2 separate regions of the Homo sapiens genome follow, and region 2 is linked to region 1. The links come from fine-mapping of genetic effects on gene expression. A gene starts in region 1. The other region holds a variant in brackets. All regions are shown on one strand. Distances are between the middles of the regions. Region 1 holds the start of RPAP3 (RNA polymerase II associated protein 3). Region 2 has its middle 62 kb from the start of LINC02156.

Region 1 (8,003 bases):
CCCTTAGCTGTCCGGACATATACCTGGGACAAGTCCACCTATGGGAATGGCAAGAAGTACATCGCCACAGCCTACATAGTGTCTTCCACCTAATAGAACTTCGAGCCAGAAAGGGGCATGAGGGCTCTTGCGAGACTGAAGTGCTATCTTCTCTGGACTAGAGAGAAGAGGGAGAGGACTGGAAGGGATCACCAAATCTCAAAGCAATGAGAAGCATTCCTAAATCCCAAAGTGCCCACATGGGAAAGAGATAAAATGTACAAATTAGAAAAATGTGGATAAACAGTCAAACCTTTATCCTCTAGAATTTTGGCAATGTTGACTAAGAAACAGAGTCCAAGCAGAGAAGGTAGGAACCCTCCATAGCTCTCTGCCCTGATGTGTGGGGGAACTAGGAAGAAGTCCTTTGACCTCACCAGGCCTCATGCTTCCCTTTAATGTAAAGGGAAGGGGTTTGCCCACTTTCCTCTTTTTGGGGTTGGTGAGAGGGCAAACCCTGATATTTTTACTGTGAAGGTGTTTTCAGTTGTTCTTAGGAAGAACAGCTGATAGAAATTCAAGATTACTATAATGGCTGTTATTATACACAGCTCTGTAAACTACCACTCAGCCCTGTGTTGGGGTCCTCAAAGAAGTAAGGCCACAGTAATCAAGCAAGGGCCTTTGGTTTTTTCCAGAGTTAGATCCTCTCAGAACAGAGTCTGGGAGAACTCCAATGCTGAATGGAGAAGGGTAATAGGTTGGTGCAGTGAATGGGCTGGGGGTGGGGTGGCCTTCTCCAGGCCTGAGTGTTTTTGTGTCCAGCTCAGTATCTGCAACAAGAAGTTTCCCACTTGTGGATGTTTAGTGCAGCCACAGACTTGTATTTTGATCCCCAATTTTTTTTTGAAAGAGTTCTCCTCATAGGAGGATGATTCAGCATCAGAAGAAGAAGGAACCCATAGCTTGGTGTCATTAACATAATTATTTTAAGCCTTATCCAGCAGCCATAATTTGAATAACTCTACGAGACCAGAGAGACTGTAGTTCCCTATTTTAACCTCAATTATGCATTTGTCCCCCAACCCCACTGAGAACTAAATGCTGTACCACAGAGCCGGGTGTGAACTATGGTTTAGAAGGTTCAAGTTTCCAATTAAAGTCATTGAAGAAAACTTGAAATGAGTGTCTTCTTTGTATATGGCCTCCCTCCAATGTCTGTCTCCCTGCCTTTTCCCTAGAGCAGGGCTGGCAGTGATACTTTTGCTCTAGAGTCTTTTCAGAATGGCTTGAAGAATGTGGTATCTGGGTGAAGTCTCTGTTGACTCACTAAGTCTCTCTAGCCAAGAGGGGAAGAGAATTCTGTAATATGAAGAGTGGAAGGATCATTGCATACAGATAGTGAGGCGGCCGGTGGGGGGGTGGTAAATGGAGATTGGTGGTCCCCATCCCCAATAACCAGTCCCCTTTATCAAATACACAGGAGTATAAGGACATTTCTGGATGTAGCTTCTGTGGTTGCAGAGGTTGACCACACTGGGGGAAGAGGAGATGCTAAAGAGATACAGAAAAAGACTTCTTATCTGTAAACAGATTACTCAAGCCACAATGCTAGAAAACGGTCAGGTATGAAGAGATACCTCGGGCAAGTTTATAGCCTGCAGATAGATGAAACAGGGCCTTGTCCTGCCCTTTCCCAGAGATGTTCACAGTCAATAGGCAAGACAGTGAGTCAGTAGAGCACAGGGGTAACAGGTACAGGCTCTGAAGTCATGTTGCCCAGGTACCTAGCCAGGCTCTGTTGCTTACTGGCCATATGAGCAAATTTCTTAATTATTCAGATTGTTTCCTCACCAGTCAAATGGGGATAATATTACCATTGTTGTGAGATAAGGAATGTGAAATAACATGCTAGTCTTTCTTATAGTAATTATTGTCTCACTTATTATACAGATTTAATTTTATACTGGGAGAGGCAATTTACTATCCCTGCTATCAGCCTTAACCTTCACCTACTGGTGCCCAGTACTTGTGCTCTTCATAGGCCTCTTCAGAGGTCTTCCAGGTAGTCCAGTAGGAGACAGAAAGACAGAAATGCAGGAGAGAGTACTGTATTCCAGGGTCTGGGCCTTAGCTTTGCAGGAGAGAAAGGTAAGAACTAACATTTGTTAAGCTGTTACCATGTCCCAAGCTGTGCTAAGTAGTCCTTTTATATTCATTTTCTCACTCTGGTGGGTATTTTTATCTTCACCACTTTAATTTTACCTAGACAACTGAGGATCAGATTAAGCCACATTCTTAGTCAGTAGCAGAATCAGGATTGCAAAATTCAACCCTTTTCCTCATGTTGTAGTGAGCCTGGATTTCTAGTAGTATCTACTCACTTATTCATTCATTATTTTTTAAAGAATATTTATTAAGACCCCTGACAGAGGCTGCTGGTTACCCCTCAGTATCTGCTCTCCTCTTCTTCCTTATTCACTGAAGTCTCAGTTTTTAGGTACACAAATGACTGTCAAGAGTACAGACTCTTGACCTCCCTTGCAACCAGAAGTAGGCGTGTGTCTATGTCCTCACCAATGGCATGCAAAAGGAAGTATTCTTAATGGGCAGGGGGTACCGTTATTCCCACTCTTGCCCTTTTCTGCCGACTGGATTTCAGACAAGATCGTGGGAGCTTGAGCAGCCAGCTTGAACCATGAATGAAAGCCATATGCTGAAGATCACAGAGCAGCCAGGAAGGAGCCTGGGTCTCACACCGAAACTGTCACACTAATCCTGGATTGCTTATATTCAGTTTTACATGAAAGAAAAATAATCTTTCATGTTTAAGCCACTCTTATTTTGGGCTTTCTGTCACATGCAACCAAACTTAACATAGTATCTCCATAACAGGAAGTCCCAAGGTTCATTTTCTTCCTAAAGTTACTTAGCTAATACTTCCTTTCTTAAGATTTACATTAACTGTCAGACTCTTTAACTATTTGAAAGAGCCCAATAATTGTTTTGGATATTAAAATTAATAGCATTTACAATCATTAATTGCAGCATTTTATTGTTGCAATAATAAACACTCCTGTTTATTTCCACTGACCATTACAACTGCAACACATAAAACACATAAAGAGGTTTGTCTCTTTGAAAATAACTCTTCAGGTATTAATGATAAGTTCAATTGAGATGACTGGAGTAAATGAATAAAAGAGACTTAAAAGAAAGGCATTATTTACACATTTTGTTGAAATCCATTTAAAGATAACTGCCAATAGAAGTGGGGAGGTCTGCAAGGAATCTAGGAAAGAACTTAAGGTGGCCTAGGTCTGAGCTCACAGGAGAGAAGGCTGCCATTGCAGGCACAGGTTTTGTGGGACAGCAGGAGCCTCAGAATTAGGTGATGATGACCATCAAAACCATTTGATTAACTTTTCTCACTTTGACTCTATATTCACTAAGCTACTTCTGATTATTGTATGGTTTGAGAGAGAAAAAGAGAGAGAAAAGCAGGGTCACCTAAGGGTCTATGAGGTTTTACTAGAGCAGCCAGCTAGCCCCCTTATCTCTCTTCTCAATCAACTCTGTCAGAATTAATAAAACAAATGTGGTTGCTTTTGTTAAAAACACCAGTAAATCAATATTTGCTTTTAAATACTTAATAAAAAAATTATTAAAAGTCAGTTCTCTATCTCCCTAATACAACCAAAGAATCATTTCATTAGTAAATATTTTGACGTACACTTAATGATTTGACTACTATGATTTTAAAATATAAAGATACCAATAATTAAGCAATGGGAAGGATGTGCTAATGATATGACCTTGTAAGACAGCACTCCAGCCTAGTTCTTCATTGATCAGCGCCTGGGTTAGTGGCTTCCAGCTTCAAATGCACAGCCGTATCCTATGCTTTAAAAAATTCTGATTGGCTTCACTCAAGACTAGTTACATCAGAATCTCTGGGATAGGACACAGAAATCAGTATACACACACACACACACACACACACACACACACACACACACACAGACACAAACACACACACACACACACGTGTATATGTATATACTCCCTAAGTGATTCCAAAGCTCAGTCAAGACTGAGAACCACCGATCTGGATTTTGAGGATATTTGAGGTTACAGTCCTGTTTTAAATGGAAAGTTTCATTTGTTTGTGTTTGCTTCTGTGGACTTCTGCAATTATTTTTGTTTTGCTTTCGTTTAAGAGTTGTCATTGCAACGAAGACTCCCTCACACGGGAAGCAGAAGCAAAAAGTGTTAAAAGTTTCGTTCTTTTTTCTCTGTAAGCCAGAGCATATCTAAAGACAGATTGTAACACTGGCACATGTCAAAGAAAGACTCAGAGATAGATTCACTTAGAAAAGGGGTTTACTTGCAAAAGATGCGAGGAGTTAGACGGAAGGACTAGTTTGCCAACCAGTACTTAAAGGGAAAAAAAAATCCCCTAAAATTACCAGGATTACCGGTTGACAGTAGTCTGTTCATGGTGGAAAAACAGTAACTTTCTCACATGGTTATTATACTCACAAAGGTCAGACAAATTAATGTCACAAAGGTCAGAGATTAGCAAGGTAAATATTAGGGATTAAACTGTTTAAGGGAGTCCAGGGAAATATTCAAGGTTTTATTGTTTTGGAGATCAGAAAATCAGGATGATCCTGCAGTTTTTGGGTTATCTCCTTTTAAGCTTAGTCATATTGGAAGCAGGCAGAAGGCTCAGATATTGCTTTTACATACCCTCAAGCCACCAAGCTGGTTCCATCCTGAGAAGGAAGTCACGAAGCTGACTTCTGCGCGCGCTCAAGCCCAGGCTAAAGGGGGCGGGGCGAGGCCGCGGGGGCTTGTGGGGAAGCGCAGGAGGCGGGGCTTTGCGTGAGTCACTGCCGGGCTCGGCGTGAGTCGCTGCGGGGCTGACGGGGTGGCAGTGCGGCGGGTTACGGCCTGGTCAGGTGAGCGGGCGTTGCGGTTCTCGCTGCCCGGAGCAGCGTAGGAGATCCTTGGGGTGGCCGGTGGGAGGAGGGGTAGCGGTTATGGGTACCGGTGAGGCGGGGCGGGCCGGGGCTGGCGGTGGAGGCGCGCGTTGAGGCGGCGCGTCGGTGTCCAGGGCAGCGGCGTCTCGGGTCGCGCGTTCCCGGAGGGGCTCGCCCCCGCAACCCGGGCCTGCGCGCTCTGCTTTGCAGGCGGACCCTCCACCCTGCTGCGATTTTGCAGTGCTCGGGAAGGCAGAGCCGCCCTCCCGCAAAGACCGAGGTGGGGCCCGCCCCCTTGCGGCGTGGGTGTGCGGTGTTCGCCGGGACAGCGGGTGTGAAAGTGATACCCCCAGCGCTGGAAGTTTTTGATTGCTGGCTCGCACCCCCGCCCCATCGCAGGGTCCCTGGGAGAGTTTTTGGGCCTGCTCGAGCAGCAGCGGTGATGGGTGAAATGGAAAAGCATCTAACCCCCGTCAGCATCTCACTGACTTGTTGCGCTTTTATTCATTTATTTGAGTTCCCAACAAAGCGTTGTACTAGTTTTGTTTTTGAATGAGTTGTGCATATATGGTCAAACATGGACACTGCCTGAAAGAAGCTTAAACCTAATTTAGTTGTTGAGGCTACGAGTCAGAAGACCTATCTGCATCTGCAACTGTCCCTTCTTAGTGAGGTATTTTTCACTGTCCTAAACAAATGTTTTTCTAATTCCGTCTCTCTCCCTCCCACCTTACTTCTCTTCCCTCCGCCTAAAGCTTTGACTCTTCTCCTACCTTTTTGGAGATTTTGCCCCATCACTCATCCTTTTTCCTGTATCTTTTACTTTGTTGCTTTTTCCCCAGACTATGCTCAAGAACAAGTCTTATATTATCAAAGGCAAATGTACTGTAATCTCCATATAATCTCATTTACGTAACTCATTTCATTCCCCCCCCTCCTTTTTTTTTGGTCCCAGGCTGGAGTGTAGTGGGCCCGTCACCGCCCACTGTGGCCTCGATCTCCCGATCCTCCCACCTCAGCCTCCTGAGTAGCTGGAACTATAGGCACCCTCCACCACGCCTGGCTAATTTTTGTGTTTTTAGTAGAGATGGGGATCTCGAAGTGTTGCCCAGGCTGATCTAGGAACTCCTGAGCCCAAGCTATTCCCCCTGCCCCCCAACCTCTGCCTCCCAAAGTGCCGGGATTACAGGCATGAGCCACCTGCGGTTGGCCTTCCACCCTTTAAAAAAAATCTTATTGAAACTCTAAATAGAGGTCAGGCGCGGTGGCTCATGCCTATAATCCCAGCACTTTGGGAGGCCGAGGTGGGCGGATCACTTGAGGTCAGGAGTTCGAGACCAGCCTGGCCAACGTGGTGAAACCCCGTCTCTACTAAAAAAAAAAAAAATACAAAAATTAGCCGGGCGTGGTGGCCTGCACCTGTAATCCCAGCTGCTCGGGAGGCTGAGGCAGGAGAATCACTTGAACCTAGGAGGTGGAGGTTGCAGTGAGCTGAGTTTGCGCCACTGCACTCCAGCCTGGGCGACAGAGCAAGACTCTGTCTCAAGAAAAAAAACAAAAACTCTGAATAGTCTTTTTATGACTAAATATAATGCACTTTCTTTCCCTCTGTGGCATTTGGCACTGCTAACCTCTCACTTTCTTCAACTCATTTTTTGTCATCTGTAACAGTACACTCTAGGTTTTTCTCCCAACTGTCTAGGTGCTACTGCCTACTTTTTTCTTCCTTGGCATCTCTTTCTCCGTTTAGTGTTCTCCAGGTTCACCCCATTCCCCAGTTGTCACAATGGTTAAACATGGCCACATCCTTGATTCTAGCTTCTACCTTTCTGCTAGTGACACCGGAATTTATCTCTATTCCTACATAGCTACCTATGGGGTATCTCTTCGCCCCATTAGCACTCAAATTCAGCATATCCCAAACAAATAATCTGACTTTCCGTTTGCCCTCCAACTTTGATGCCTCTTTTCCTTTTAACATTGTATTTCTTGACTCAAAATGGCATCAGTAATCTTACCGGGGTCCCAAGCCAGAAATCTAGGCCACTGTTTGAGTCTTTCTCTGTTCTCCAACACCTCAGTCTAGTCAGTCATCAAGTTCTTTTTATTTTACTACCTTGATATTTTCACATAACTTTCAGAATATAGGTTAGACCTCATGGCCTGCCATTTCAAGTCTGTCCCATGTCCACCTCTTTAATTTTCTTTTCCTTCATTCTCCCTCATAATTCCTCACTCTGCCTGCCCACTCCTCCCTGTTAGTCACTTGGCGGGCCCCTTTGAAATCCAGCTAAAGTTCCAACACCTCTGGGGACTCCTTCCGTGACACCACCACCCTACTATCTGATCCATGCCTATTTTTTGCAGTCAGTTCCATAGCATCTGTATGTACCTCTGACGCAGGGTTCTCAACCAGGGGTTATTTTACCTCTCAGGGAACATTTGGCAGTGTCTGGGATTCTTCGTTGTCACAATCCATGAGAGGAAGGGATAATCCTGGCACCTAGTTGGTAGAGGACAGAAATGTTGCCAACCCTCCTACAATGCACAGGACAGCACTCTTAAAATAAATTTTTTGGCCCAAAATGTCAGTAGTCCCAAGGTTGAGAAACCCTGCTTAACATATTTTGTTACTAGTGCTTTATATATTTTTTTCTTCTCCACTGCACAAGGGACCTTGTCTTGTTTTTGCATCCCTAAATCTTGATTCAGGGCCTTTCACATAGTAGAAGTTAAATGTTGGAAGAAAAAGAAATAAAGGAGGTAATCGCTCAACTCCAGAGATGAGCAGCCTGTCTGCTACCACAGGCTACCTGATAATTTCAGTGATTTTTCTCCCCATTACCTTTCTTTAATGTTGCCTTTCAAGGATGCTTCAACTTGTCTATTTTTCATTTGTTTATTCAGCAACTGATTTATTTTTAAAATATTATATTGATTTTTCTTTATTCAGCATCAGTTGGCTGTCTTCTGTCCATGTATCTTGGCCACTTATGAAGTGGTAAAAGATAATTAGCTAGCTTTCAGAAAAATAAACCA
Region 2 (8,773 bases), 230 kb after region 1:
TTGTGTTTAATGCATTCTTTAAGATATTTGTTATCTAGCATTCTATTTTAGAGGACAGAATGACAGAAAAGTTTTTGATGCCTAATTTTCTCCTTAGCCTTAATTCACTGGAATAATTCTCTTTCTCTCTCATGTTGTAATTCAAATGGATTTATCTTGAGAAGTCATCTTGAGGAAAAAGCATATATTTTTTGTATCCCAAGAGACTTCACAGAATAAAAAATAATTGCTTTTTTGTTTTTTTCTGTGCTTGTATTCGTACCCCAAATATTTCACGGTTATCTTCAGAAACATTGTGTACTTTAAGAGCTCAGCAAATGTTTTCCTAAAAAAAAGAGAGAGTGCACAAGCCATCAGCCCATTTGTTTCCCCTCTAGACCTAGGTGAAATCCATCTACTCTGATGTTCATAAAATGGGGACCCTCCTGTCCAGAACATCATTTCTCTATGAATATTTTTCTCATCCCTTTGATTTGTTTCCCTACTTTTGTCATTACAGAAAGCTATCTTGAATCATAAAGAAAGCCCTATTTTTTATATATCTGAAAAAGACAGGGATATAATTGAACTCTACCCACAGGTACAAAATAAAATAAGCCCATAATATAGCCATAACACTGGAAAAGAATAGAAAATCGTTCTGTTCTCATTATTTTAGGAAATAAGGCTTTAAGCAGCAAACAGCATATGAATCTGAACTGACAGGTAATATGAAAATGAGCAGAAGGAGGCAAATAAGGTGTGAATCATCCCTAGGGTCATTTATCTCCAGGGAACAGGCTGCGCATATTTCTGAGCTTCTGCTCCTTGATGGGGAGTACCTGAGGGGTAGGGGACAGGGCACCCACCAGCAAGCTTTACAAGCATTAAGAAGTGCCCACTGACCCTCTGGGTTGGTGGGCCTGCTGTCCTCCTTCTTTCCACGCCAGAGAATTTCCCTGGGCCCTGATACTTTGAACCCTAACAAATGGTGCTATGGTTATTCATCCTAATCCATTTTAAACTCACAGGTTTCACAGCCACCTCAGCATCTCTTACTGTCTATTGAACTTATATGTCCAGTCACAGAGATGGCAGGATGTGGTAGTAAAAATGCCTTTTCTCCCTCTCAGGGCAACCCAGGGTCTCAAATCTGGCACATACAAGTATCAAAGTGAAAAATGGAAGCAAGGAGAGGCATATAGGCAAAACAACAACAACAAAACACACACACACACAAAGAGGTGACAATAGCAGGAATGAAACCACCTTTGAAAAATTATGACGGTGAGACAAATCTGACGTAACTGACTCCACCTTGCTTCTAACCTCACAAGCTAATGGTCTTTGCTCATTCCTGGGCACAGGCTAAGTTAACTATGGAAGGAATTTAGTTTATAGTTTAACTTCAAAAACAAAGATATTAGTCCCTTCCCAAAACTAACCCTCTCTTTTCTTGGGTATAAAAACCACCTTTGTAAAACTAATAAACTGTCCACAAGATTAGAATTATGGTTCAAGAGTCATGTAGCCAGAGGTCAAAAGATTTGTAACCTCCCCAATTTCTCTTTTAGATAACATTGCAATTGTGAAACCTAAGATTGATGTTTGAGGTATTTTTCAGACCTTGCATTCTGATGCTATCCCAGCACCATTTATTGAATAGGGACTCCTTTCCCCATTGCTTATTTTTTCCAACTTTGTCAAAGATTGGATGGCTGTAGGTGTTTAGGTTTATTTCTGAGTTCTCTATTCTGTTCCATTGGTCTATGTGTCTATTTTTGTACCCATACCATGCTTTTTTGGTTACTGTCTTCTTATAGTGTAGTTTGAAATTGAGTAATGTGATGCCTCCAGCTTTGATCTTTTTGTTTAGGATTGCTTTGGCTATTAGAGCTCTTTTTTGGTCTCATGTGAATTTTAGAACACTTTGAGTTCTGTGAAATATGAGATTGATAGTTTGATAGGAATAGCATTGAATCTGTAGACTTCTTTGGGCAGTGTGGCTATTTTATAATATTGATTTTTTTTCCTATCCTTGAGTGTGAGATGTTTTTCCATTTTTTTGTGTCATCTCTGATTTCTTTCAGCAGTTTTGTGGCTCTTCCTTAGAGAACTTTCACCTACTTGGTTAGGTGTATTCATAGGGTTTTCTTTCTTTCTTTCTTTCTTTTTTTTTTTTTTTTTGCTATTGTAAATAGGATTGTGTTCTTGATTTGGATCTCAGTTTGAACACTATTGATATATAGAAATAGTACTAATTTTGTACATAAATTTTGTATCCTGAAACTTTACTAAAGTGGTTTATCAAGACTAGGAGCCTTTTGATGGAGTCTTTAGGGTTTTCTAAGTATAAAGCCGTATCATCAGCAAAGAGAGAGAATTTGAATTTTTCTTTTCCTATTTGGATGACCTTTTTTTTTATACTTTAAGTTTTAGGGTACATGTGCACATTGTGCAGGTTAGTTACATATGTATACGTGTGCCATGCTGGTGCGCTGCACCCACTAACTCGTCATCTAGCATTAGGTATATCTTCCAATGCTATCCCTGCCCCCCTCCCCCCACCCACAACAGTCCCCAGAGTGTGATGTTCCCCTTCCTGTGTCCATGTGATCTCATTGTTCAATTCCCACCTATGAGTGAGAATATGCGGTGTTTGGTTTTTTGTTCGACTTTTATTTCTTTCTCTTGCTAATTGCTCTGGCTAAGACTTCCATTACTATATTGAATAGTAATGGTGAGAATGAGCATACTTGTCTTATTCCAGTTCTCAAGGGGAATGATTCTAGTATTTGCCCATTTAGTATGATGTTGACTGTGGGTTTGTGATAGATGGCTCTTATTATTTTGAGGTATGTTCCTTTGATGCTTACTTTCTGGAGGGTTTTTATCATGAAGCGATGTTCGATTTTATCACAAGCTTTCTCTGAGTCTATTGAGATAATCAGATGGTTTTTGTTTTAATTATGTTTATGTGGTGAATCACATTTATTTATTTGTGTGTTCTGAACCAACCTTGCATCACAGGAATAAAGTCTACTTGATCATGGTGAATAAACTCTTTGATGTGCTGCTGGATTTGGTTTGCTGATATTTTGTTGAGGATTTTTTTTCTTTTTGCCTATGTTCATCATGAATATTGGCCTGCAGTTTTCTTATTTTGTTGTTGTCTCTTTGCCAGGTTTTGGTATCAGAGAGATGCTGGCTTCAAAGAATGAATTAGGAAGGAGTCTCTTCTCGATTTTTTGGAATAGTTTCAGTAGAAGTAGTACCAGCTCTTCTCTGTACATCTGGTAGGATTCAGCTGTGAATCCATCTGGTCCAGGGTTTCTCTTGGTTGGAAGGATTTTTATGAATGATTCCATTTCAAAACTCAATGTTGGTCTGTTCAAGGATTCAATTTCTTCTTGGTTCAGTCTTGGGAGGGTGTATGTGTCCAGAAATTTATCCACTTAGTCTAGATTTTCTAGTTTGTGTGCATGGAAGTGTTCATGATAATCTCTGGGACTCTTGTATTTCTGTGGTATCAGTTGTAATGTCACCTTTGTCATTTCTGATTGTGTTTATTTGTATCTTCTCTCTTTTTTCTTTGTTAATCTACTTAGCAGTCTATCAATATTATTTCTCCTTTCAAAAAGCCAACTTTTTGTTTGTTGATTCTGTGTATGGATTTTTTGTCTCAACTTCATTCAGTTCTGCTCTGATTTTAGGTATTTCTTTTCCTCTGCTAGCTTTGGGGTTAGCTTACTCTTATTTTTCTAGTTCCTCTAGGTGTAATGTTAGATCATTAATTTGAGATCTCTCTAACTTCTTGATGTAGGTATTTAGAGCTACTAAGTTTCCTCTTGACACTGCTTTTGCTGCATCCTAGAAATTTTGATATGTTGTGTCTCTGTTTCCATTTATTTCAAACTTTTTTGATTTCTGCCTTAATTTCATTGTTTACCAGAAGTCATTCAGGAGAAAGTTGCTTAATTTTTATGTAATTGTGTGGCTTTGAGAGATCTTCTTGGTATTGATTTTTATTTTTATTCCACTGTGGTCTGAGTGTATAGTTCATATAGTTTTGAATTTTTGAATTTATTTATTGCTTTATGGCGAGCATGTGGTCAATCTTAGAGTATGCTCCATGTACAGATGAGCAGAATGTGTATTCTGTGACTGATGGGTGGATTAGTCTGTAAATGTCTATTAGGTCCAATTGGTCAAGTGTCAAATTTAAGATCAGAATTTCTTTGTTAGTTTTCTGCCTTGATGACCTGTCAAATGCTGTCAGTGGAGGTGTTGAAGTCCTCCACTATTATTGTGTGACTGTCTTTTTGTATGTCTAGAAGTACTTGTTTTATGAATCTGTGTGCTCCAATGTTGGGAGGGTATATATCTAGGACAGTTAAGTCTTCTTGTGGTACTGAATTATTTATCATTGTGTAATGCCCTTCTTTGTCCTTTTTTACTGCTGTAAGTGTAAAGTCTATTTTATCTGATATAAGAATAGTGACTCCTGTTCTTTTTTGTTTTCCATTTGAGTGATAGATTTTTCTTCTCCCCTTTACTTTGAGACTAGGGGTGTCATTACATGTCAGATGGGTCTCTTGAAGATAGCAGATGAATGGCTCTTCCTTTTTTTTTATCCAACTTGCCACTCTGTGCCTTTTAAGTGGGGTGTTTAGACCATATACATTCAAAGTTAATATTAGTATGTGAGATTTTGATCCTATCATGGAGTC[A/T]TTAGCTGGTTGCTTTGTAGTTTGTATTGTATAATTGCTTTATAGCATCTCTGGACTATGTACTTAAATGTGTTTTTGTGGTAGTAGGTATTGTTCTTTCTTTTCCATGTTTAGACCTCTCTTGAGGATCTCTTGTTAGGCTGGTCTAGTGGTAGTGAATTACCTTAGCAATTGCATGTCTGGAAAAGGTTTTATTTCTCCTTCACTTATGAAGCTTAGTTTGGTGGAATATAAAATTCTTGTTTGGAATTTCTTTTATTTAAGAATGTTGAAAATAGGCCCTCAAACTGTTGTAGCTTGAAAGATTTCTGCTTAGAAGTTTTCTGTTAGCCTTATTGGGTTCCCTTTGTGTGTGACCTGATCTTTTCTGTTGCCTTTACAATTTTTTCTTTAGCATTGACCTTGGACAGTCTGGCGACTATATTCCTTGGTGATGTTCGTTTTGTATAGTATCTTGCAGGTGTTCTCTGGATGTCTTGTACAGGATGTCTACCTCTCTGGCAAAACTGGAAATATTTTATTGGATTATTACTTCGAATATATTTTCCAGGTTGTTTACTTTTTCTCCTCTCATAGAAATGCCATTAATTCATAGGTTTGGTTGCTTTACATAATCCATTTTCTTGAAGATCTTATTCATTTTTAAAATTCTTTTTTCTTTATTTTTGTCTGACTGGGTTAGTTTAAAAGATCAGTCTTCTAGCTCTAAATCCTTTTTTCTGTTTGGGCTAGTCTATTGATAAAGGTTTCAATTGTACTTTGAAATTCCTTAAGTGAGTTTTTCAATTCCAGAAGCTTGGATTGATTTATTTTTAAGATGTTTATGTCTGCCTTCATTTCCTGGATTGCTTTAGAAGTTTCTTTGTGTTGATTTTCAACCTTGTCCTGGATCTCACTGGGCTTCCTAGTAATCCATGCTTTGAATTCTTCATCCTTCCTTTCTGAGTTTTCATTTTGATTACAGACTGTTGCTGGATAGCTAGTGTGATCCTTTGATGATGTCACAGCACTCAGATTTTTCATGGTGCTAGAATTCATGCACTGGTTCCTTCTCATCTGAGGCCACTGACACTTCTAAATTTTGTCATTATTTTCATGCAGATAGGATTTGTTTTTCCTTTCTCTCTTTTCCTGTGTTATTATTTTCTTCCCCTTTGCCCATGTCCCTAGGGGATATGACTTTAGAGAATGTTGGGTAAAACCTTTTGGCTTCATTTCAATATCTCTATGCACTTCTGTCAGCCAGTTTTATATTGGGCAGTTCAACCTACAGACAAGTTCATGGTTCTAATGAGTAAGAGCCAGATGTGGCCAACATAGATGGGTATATGTTTAATCCTTGTTTACTGGAGAAGGTCTCTGTTTCTGGAAGCAAATGGCAGATCTGTGGAGTTCACAGTGGCCTGAGCACCCTGCTCAGCACCATAGCTGAGGGATAAAGATGGTTGGGGCTAGACCAGGCCTGCTTACAGGTCACCCAATGGCAGGCACAAGAACCAGCACCAAGGGGGGTCCAGTGCACAGCCACCAAGTGCCCACAGATGTGTCTAGGTGTGCCTTGGGGCTGAATAGGAACTCTTTGGCTTCAAGTTCTCTGCACAGGGAATGCAGCCACCTAAATTCCAAATCCAGGAGAATGACTGCTCTAGATGCCTGGAGCTCTGCCTGGGTGTGGAGTGTAGAGGGCCCCATTCCACCACAATCTCTGCATAGGGAGGGTGGAGTGTCTCAGGCTGCTTACCCAGGTGATGTGCTCCAAATACTTAGAGATCAACCTGGGCATGGGACAGAGATGGCACCACTGCACCACAATCTATGCATAGGATGACTGGGCAACTCAGGCTGCTGGTGTAGGTGGGTGGGAGATCCAAATGCCTGGAGATCTGCTGGAAGTAAAGTGGAGAGGGCCCTGCTGTACCACATTCTATGTACAGGAAGGGTAGGGTGGCTCTAGCTGCAGATCCCATCAAGGGGGTGCTCTAACTGCCTGGAGATCTGCCCGGATATGGAACAGAAGAGGCCCCATGGCACCCCAATCTATGCACAGGAGGGGTGGAGCAGCTCAGGATGCTAATCCAGAAGAGTGGGTGCTCTGAATGCTTGGAGATCAGCCTGGGTGTGGAGTAGAAAGGGCTCTACTACATCACAATCTCAGGGGAGCAGGCTGGGGCACCCAGCAATGGCACATGTAGACCAGTTCCAGGTCCCCAAACTGGCCCTGGCTGTCCATCTTCTCACCAAGGAGAAACTGGCTGTCAGCACTCTCCTCCTGCACCAGACCTGTGATCGGGTAGAGCACAATTCCAGTTCCTACAGCTTGGGTGCTTTCCATACTTGTTCTGGCTGTGGAGGCTCCTACTCAGCTCCAGAGCAGGTGCTCCAATCTCTAGTCCAAGACTAAAATGCTGTATGGCCATGGTGCCAGGCTACTAAATAATGACTGATGTTGTATGCACCCAGATTAAAAATGGTGCCACAGTCTCCAAATCAGGCCTGGGAAAATGCCTACAACTTTGTCTGGTGTCCTTCCCTTTCAGTGTCTCCAAGCTTCTCTCCAAGTTGGCGCCAAGGCTTTGGAGGAACAAAGTGCTCTCCCTTAGCCTGGTTGCATGGATCCCCAGTGGAAAGGTGAGTCACAGAGGGAGGCTTTCTACCTCCTCCTGTCCTGTTCTAGGGCTTCACTCACTTTTGTCAGACAAATGCCATCATCGGGGCAGCTTGCCCACCTTCTCTTCCCTGGCACCTGGGATGAGATGTCCTTCACTATTCTGGTGGATTCCTGTTTTCCTTCTTGAATTAAAGCCCACAGAGTTGATCTTTATGACTGATTTTGCTATTTCCAAGTGGCTAAGGCATGCTGAAAACCTCTAATCAATTATCTTGGGAAAAAAAAAAAAACCTCTGTTTTATAACACTACACAGAGCTCTGCAACTGACTCAAGCATGCAGTTTGTCCCACAAATAGGGTTGTCAGACTGACATCACATAGTCATTTGAACTAAAGGTGCCTAAACATATTCCCAGGAGTATTTGCCATAAAGCAGAGCCTCATAATATAATCAACAATAAAGTACAATCTCTGTTAGCATTATGGCCTTTCCATCTTATTTTCCTATAGTGTCTACATTTCTGAAGAATTGATTTAGAAAAAACAATCAACACTTGTATAGCACTTTATAATAGGCAGAGCGCTTCAAATATGCGAGTTTATTGATTCACTTAGTAAACTGAACCACAAGTGGATTCTATAGTGTTTAGGTTTGTGTTTATGGGTACTGTGTGGATGTATAAACCTCTTAAACTCCCTTAATCTCATGCTTTCAGACTCTACTATGATTCTTCTGGAACAGAAGAGACCCTTTTCTCTCATATTCTGATATTCACAAGAACTTCATTACTGTAAAGAAACATTATTCCCTGTTATGACTAAACTCTTACACATGGAGACAATGGGTAATAATTTTAAATAGTGGGAAGTGGAAAATTATGGTACTTGATGTGAAAGTAGCCTAATGATTACACCTTTTATCTTTAGCTCCAAGGTTTATGAGTTACAGTTGAAATGAAAGTGAAGCTATCCTTTATTATTATCTGAAGTAGGATATTAAAATATAAAGCTGTCCTCATAAGGTGTTTTGTTTTAGCTTTTTACTTGGGAGGTAGTATAGCACCTTCTTTAAGAATGTAAGCTCTTGGTTAAGAATCTAGGCTTCCTGGGTTTGAATCACAGTTTCACAACTTTATTAGTTAAATATTCTCTTGGGCAAGTTGTTCAAGCACTTGAAATCCAATTTCTTCATCTCTAACATGAGCATCAGAGCAGTGCTCTTCATAGAATCACAGGGAGAATTGAACAAGATCATCTATGAGGGGCTCTTGGCTTAGTGCCTAGACTCTGTGAGCTCTGTTTATGTGTTCTGTTGTTAAAGCATTTTACAGTCGAAAAGAAAGAATCACATCAGCCGAATGGGAAGCTGAAATTCTATCCTTTTCTTGCACGTTATAGACTGCTTTTATTTCTATTTTTCCTTCTAGGAAGAGAGGGAAGAGGCTGTTCCTGTCAT

The links. PIP is the estimated chance that this variant, and not a neighbour inherited with it, causes the effect.
Region 2: its variant is the best candidate, but not a certain one, in a credible set for the expression of RPAP3 in whole blood (INTERVAL, PIP 0.70).

The regions. Positions count from the first base shown.
Region 1 is chr12:47,702,892-47,710,894 of GRCh38, reverse strand. It overlaps RPAP3 (RNA polymerase II associated protein 3), which reads left to right and starts at 4,865. Exons shown (of 17, transcript NM_024604.3): 1 at 4,865-4,943. ENDOU (endonuclease, poly(U) specific) reads left to right here. Exons shown (of 10, transcript NM_001172439.2): 10 at 1-1,161. The coding sequence ends at 93. RPAP3-DT (RPAP3 divergent transcript) reads right to left here and starts at 4,807. Exons shown (of 4, transcript NR_183480.1): 1 at 4,732-4,807. RefSeq lists enhancers at 4,554-4,703, 4,635-4,929, 4,650-5,149, 5,150-5,651 and silencers at 4,844-4,923, 4,994-5,283, 5,314-5,403.
Region 2 is chr12:47,473,110-47,481,882 of GRCh38, reverse strand. No RefSeq gene overlaps it. Among named protein-coding and RNA genes, the nearest start is that of LINC02156, 62 kb to the right of the region's middle. The variant A/T (reference allele first, on the strand shown) is at 4,710.